2 separate regions of the Homo sapiens genome follow, and region 2 is linked to region 1. The links come from fine-mapping of genetic effects on gene expression. A gene starts in region 1. The other region holds a variant in brackets. All regions are shown on one strand. Distances are between the middles of the regions. Region 1 holds the start of CEP20 (centrosomal protein 20). Region 2 overlaps CEP20 (centrosomal protein 20).

Evidence for each region. PIP is the estimated chance that this variant, and not a neighbour inherited with it, causes the effect.
Region 2: its variant is fine-mapped to the expression of CEP20 in whole blood (TOPMed, PIP 0.95).

Annotation. Positions count from the first base shown.
Region 1 is chr16:15,887,010-15,889,925 of GRCh38, reverse strand. CEP20 (centrosomal protein 20) reads left to right here and starts at 1,323. Exons shown (of 5, transcript NM_144600.4): 1 at 1,323-1,368. The coding sequence starts at 1,341.
Region 2 is chr16:15,866,000-15,868,855 of GRCh38, reverse strand. CEP20 (centrosomal protein 20) reads left to right here. Exons shown (of 5, transcript NM_144600.4): 5 at 1,340-2,856. The coding sequence ends at 1,416. Among named protein-coding and RNA genes, the nearest start is that of MYH11, 10 kb to the right of the region's middle. The variant C/T (reference allele first, on the strand shown) is at 1,481.

The DNA of each region.
Region 1 (2,916 bases):
CGCCCGGCTAATTTTTGTACTTTTTTTTTAGTACAGAGGGGGTTTCACCAGGCTGGCCAGGCTGTTCTCGAACTCCTTACCTCAGTCTCCCAAAGTGCTGGGATTCCAGGCGTAAACCACCGTGCCCTGGCAGCTCTTAGGTGTACTTTTTTTTTTTTTTTTTTGAGACGGAGTCTCACTCTGTCGCCCAGGCTGGAGTGCAGTGGTGCCATCTCGGCTCACTGCAAGCTCCACCTCCCGGGTTCACGCCATTCTCCTGCCTCAGCCTCCCGAGTAGCTGGGAGTACAGGCGCCCGCCAGCACGCCCGGCTAATTTTTTGTATTTTTAGTAGAGACAGGGTTTCACCGTGTTAGCCAGGATGGTCTCGATCTCCTGACCTCGGGATCCGCCCGCCTCGGCCTCCCAAAGTGCTGGGATTACAGGCGTGAGCCACCGCGCCCGGCCACTCTTAGGTGTACGTCTAATCGATGTTTATTATTTAGCCAAGTGTTTGGATCTCACCGGCATTACAACTGGAATCATGCAACCTCACACTCAGTTTAGGGTACATTATTCCCCTGTTCCTTTTCCTTTACTTCCATGGGATGTTGGAGCTTATTCCTTCATTAGTTAGTTCCATAAAAAGCTCCTGGACTCCTTACATGCACTGTGTAAGTGCGAGTGGAAGAGGACAGGCTGGTGACCTTGGTTAAGTCTCTTCAGCGATGGAGGACTCTGTTTCCTTCATTGTAAAAACGGCGTGATCATAAGGAAATAATGCGCTAAGGCGTCACAGTAAGTGCTTAATACAGTGGTTCTCGAGGTGTGATCTCCAGACCGACCAGCAGTACCAGTACCACCTGGGAACTCGATAGAAATGCAAATCCTAGGGCCTCACCCCAGATTTACAGAATCAGAAACTCTATGGGGAGGACTAGCAAACAATCCGTTTAAACAAGTCTTGGAGGTGATGAGGATTCATGCTCAAGTTTGAGAACCGCAGGGTTAATAGGTGGTAACTACTAGCAGTTGGTACTTGAGGCTGCAGAGACAATGAAAAACTCAGCTGGCTAAAGTTAAGCACTAAGGTGCCAGCAGCACCCCACAGGGCTCTCCACTGCCTCAGTCCCCGCCCTCCCTGCCGTCTCACTCAACTGGGCCTTCCGAGAGCGCTCGCTGATTGGTGGAGTCTCTGGTCGACATTCACTACCCACTCAACCGCAGAGCTCATAAACTGAGAGGGGCGGAAGTGGGCGGGGCGAGAGCTGTGCGCCTATTGGCTACAGACCACGCCGCAGGGTGAGTGGGGCGGAGCTGCGCGTGCGCAGGGCCGCGGTGCGGCCCTGGCGGCCGTTGAAAAATGGCGACTGTGGCAGAGTTGAAGGCTGGTGAGTGCGAGCAGGGAGGCCTCCACATGGGAAGCGTCGGGCCTTCATCTTGTGGAAAGGATGGGATGGGAGGAGAGCGCGCGGAACACATGGGTTGGCTTTTACAGGCGTCATTCTTCGGTGTGAGGGCCTGCGGGGAGCGTCTGGCTGCTGTCTTGGCCCGTGCGCGGGGAGCTCTTATGGGGAAGAGGTTGCCCACTGGCGAGTTTTAAGCCAGTTTGGAGCTAAAGGAGGAGTTGCGTAATCTTCAGGCATCTAAGAGGCCTACAGGCCTGCATCTTGGGCCCCTGGCTCATCTTCTTGGACCCTGCCGGGGGCTGGAGGACTTGGACCAGGCTTGGCACTCAGGGCTGATGACTACAATTCCCACAACCCCTATTGGGTTAGGCACTGCCCTAAACAATTTGCTTGGTTGTCTCGTTGGGTCCTTACAACAACCTGTTAAGTAGCCCTCCCCTCCTTGCTTTTTTTTTTTTTTTTTAAAGAGAGGGTCTCTCTGTCGCCCAGGCTGGAGTGCAGTAGCGCGATCACAGCTCACTGCAGCTTCGAACTCCGGGACTCCAGCTATCCTCCCACCTCAGCTTCCAGAGCAGGTGGGAATACAGGGGCTCTTCACTACGCCCGGCTAATTTTTGTATTTTTTGTAGACACGGGGTCTTACTGTCGAACTCCTGGTCTCAAGCTATCCTCCTGCCTTGGCCCCCTCAAAGTGCTGGGATTACAGGTGTGAGCGCCTGGCCCCTTTTTCATCAGAAGAAACTAGAGGCAAAAAGTTTGCTGGCCTGGCCATTCTCCTGTCTTTTCAGGAAAAGATACTCTAAGCTAGTTATGTTTGAGTCATTAATGACATTTGTACGCTGTTTACTTTGAAGCAAATGTCCAGACAAGTAATAGTAATAATAGTTATCATTGAGCCTCATGTGTCAGGCACTACTCAACTCAGCCTGTGTGTTACCTGATTGTAACAACCCTATGCCCATTTCATAGACTGGGAAACGAGGTACTGAGAAGTGAAATAGCTCAAAGTGATTTCACTGGAAAGAGACACAGCATGGGAACCTAGTTGTGACGCACTGGAGCGCCAGGTCTTAATCACTGAGCAAGATTGCTGTCCAAAAAATAAAACCAGTTCCACTTTGCAGGGAACCCAGGGTTTAAACTAGTAATTCTTAGATATTTTAGGGAGGAGACGTGTATAAAAGTGTGTATTTGGGGACAGGGCTGGTGAACAATCATAAAACAGAACAGGCATGCATCTGTCCACAAGAACAGACTTCACGAGTCTACAGATGCTGTTCCCAGGGAAATACACATCACATGTAATATTGCATACATTTTCAGAGGATTTAAAGGTACACTTGGAATGGGCCAAGCACAGTGGCTCATGCCTGTAATCCTAACACTTTGGGAGGATCGCTTGAGCCCAGAAGTTTAAGACCAGCCTGGCCAACATGGTGAGACCCCATCTTTATTTAAAAAATAAAAATTAAAAAAAAGAGCCGGGCATAGTGGCCTGTGGTAGTTCCAGCTACCCCACAGGCTGAAACA
Region 2 (2,856 bases), 21 kb after region 1:
CACATCTATCAAGCATAGTAGACTTCATTTTTTATAACACTTTTCTAGAAGACCTAAAATTGTTACCTTCTGAGGAAATTGTTAATTTTTTTTCTGTCCAGCAAAGTTACCTAAAATAAAGGGAGAGAGATTTCCATCTGTTTTCCAGACCCTTAAAGTAGTATTGGCACTGAGAATAAGCAGCTGAGAACTAATAAAGCGTGTGTATAATCACATTGTAGAATTAGAAAACCCAGTGATAAAATTGCATTTTCTAGCAGCTTATCTAAATTTATGTATATATTTTTTCCTATTATCAAAGTTGTTGCAAGAAAGATGTTTTATCAGTTGTAGAAAGTGTTTGGGGTTCATATATTCTCAAGAATCTAGTTTTTGCATTACATTTTTGTTGCATTAGGATATTAAGTCTCTAGGTTCTTTTTTTTTCTTCTCGAGACAAGAGTCTTGCTCTGTCGCCCAGGCTGGAGTGCAGTGGCACGATCTCGGCTCACTGCAACCTCCACTTCTGAGTTCAAGCGATTCTCCTGCCCTCAGCCTCCCAAGTAGCTGGGATTGTAGGTGCCCGCCACCACGCCTGGCTAATTTTTATATTTTTAGTAGAGACAGGGTCTCTATCTCCTGACCTCAGGTGATCTATTTGAAGTGGTTTTCATTGTGTTGTAATTGAAGAGCTTTGGCAACCCTCAAAATGCTGATTGAACACCTTGTCCTTTCTTGCAAATTTCATTCCTTACATGTAAGAGAGAGGTTTGTAACTACTTATGCATGGGTTTACTGCAGGTTGTACTCTACTCAAAAAAAAAGTCAAGAAACTCTTTTGAATAATTAGAGTCCCTAATGCCAGACATTTCTGATTTCTTTCTTTTTTTTTTTTTTTTTTTTGAGACCGAGTTTCACTCTTGTTGCCCAGGCTGGAGTGAAATGGCACGATCTTGGCTCACTGCAACTTCTGCCTCCCAGGTTCAAGCAATTCTCCTGCCTCAGCCTCCCGAGTAGCTGGGATTACAGGCGCCTGCCACCACGCCCGGGTAATTTTTGTATTTTGAGGAGACACGGGGTTTCACCATGTTGGCCAGACTAGTCTATAACTCTTGACCTCAGGTGATCCACCCACCTCGGCCTCCCAAAGTACTGGGATTACAGGCGTGAGCCACCACGCTTGGCCTCTGATTTCTTCAATAGTGTTTAAAAAATAATGGGTTTTTTTCATTGTCCTAAACCATCTAAAGTACTCATAGAATATTAAATATGTAACATCCTAAGATATTTGTAGCTATGTCTACCTATCTGTGTGTTTTGACTTGGGATAAGTATTAACATTGGTTTCTGTGCATTTCAGATGACCACCTAAGAAAGGAGGAACAGAAAAGTACTAACATTGAAGATCTTCATGTTTCTCAGGCAGTCAACAGATAATGCTTTGTTTGGGGTATCTTTTGTCTTAAAATTGTATTATTAATTAAATAACTTATTTATTGTC[C/T]CAATGTTACCAAAATGCACCACTAATGTTTGTAGAAATTGGAGTTTCTACAAAACACCCCTCATGTTTAACTACATTTGTGAATAAAAGCTAACTCTTGTCATCTAGCTTATTGGATTTGACTTGAAAAAAAAAGTATTGTTTTTACGAAGTATTTTTTGTTTTTTTGAGATGGAGTCTCGCTCTGTCACCCAGACTGGAGTGCAGTGGCACGATCTCGGCTCACTGCAATCTCTGCCTCCCGGATTCAAGTGATTCTCCTGCCTCAGCCTCCCAAGTAGCTGGGAAAACAGGCCTGTGCCACCACACCGGAGTAGTTTTTGTATTTTTAGTAGAGATGGGGTTTCACCATGCTGGCCAGGCTGGTCTTGAACTCCTGACCTCAGGTGATCTGTGTGCCCCAGCCTCCCAAAGCGCTGGGATTACAGGTGTGAGCCACTGAGCCCAGCCATTTAGGAAGTATTATAAAGGCCCTTAAAGTTTGTAAGGAAATGAAAGGGCTTTGTATTACCTTTTCAATAGGCAACAATGTACTTTTTCTTTCCTTAGACTTTGGCTTACTGGAAGATTTAATTAAAAGGTAGAGGAGAAGTAAATTTGCTGTAATAATTTTGCTGTAAATAAAACAAAGAGTTTATTTTATTAGATAAAGAATGTGAAGTAAGCATGAAGAGACAGGCTTTGGGAGAAATACCAGAAAGGGATTTTTCAAAGATGGCATTGTTTAATCTCCGTGTGGCCCTCGGTTGTGCAATCACAGATGAGCCAGAAGAGGGCCAGCCCCCTACTTGTTTGGGCTCCGAAACTCTTACCAAACATCAATTTTTATTCTTGGGATAGAAAAATAGTATGTGCTATCTCTAATACGCTACTTCGATATTTATTAAAGAAGTATTTTTAATGTAGTGTCCACAGGCTCATTTCATTGAAAACAACTGACTATGATGATAGACAGCTCCTGATTGGCAAAAGTTCGATGGTATATTCAGAATTAAATTTTGCCTGCACACCTAAACACTGACAACATTTAGCTTAAAGGTTTTCCATGGAGAAGAGTGGTAAGAGCTGTAGTTAGCAAAATTGGCATCCTCTTTAGGGTGTCAATTCTGTGCTGCTTTGCAAATTGTTGAAACTTTTGATTTTCTGTTTGGCAATGCTAGTCAGTGTTCACTTCTTACAGATTAGCCAAGAATTTTTATCTAAATGCAGAAACTTATTAATGAAATCCATTTAAACTATACTTACACAACATTTTGGGAGGCCCTGCTGGTAAAATTATATATGGATGCAGAAGTATTGCAAGAGTCCATTTTCCATTTTTAAATCTGCAATATCTGATTACATTGATGAATTCCGTTGTATTGTATGTGTGAATA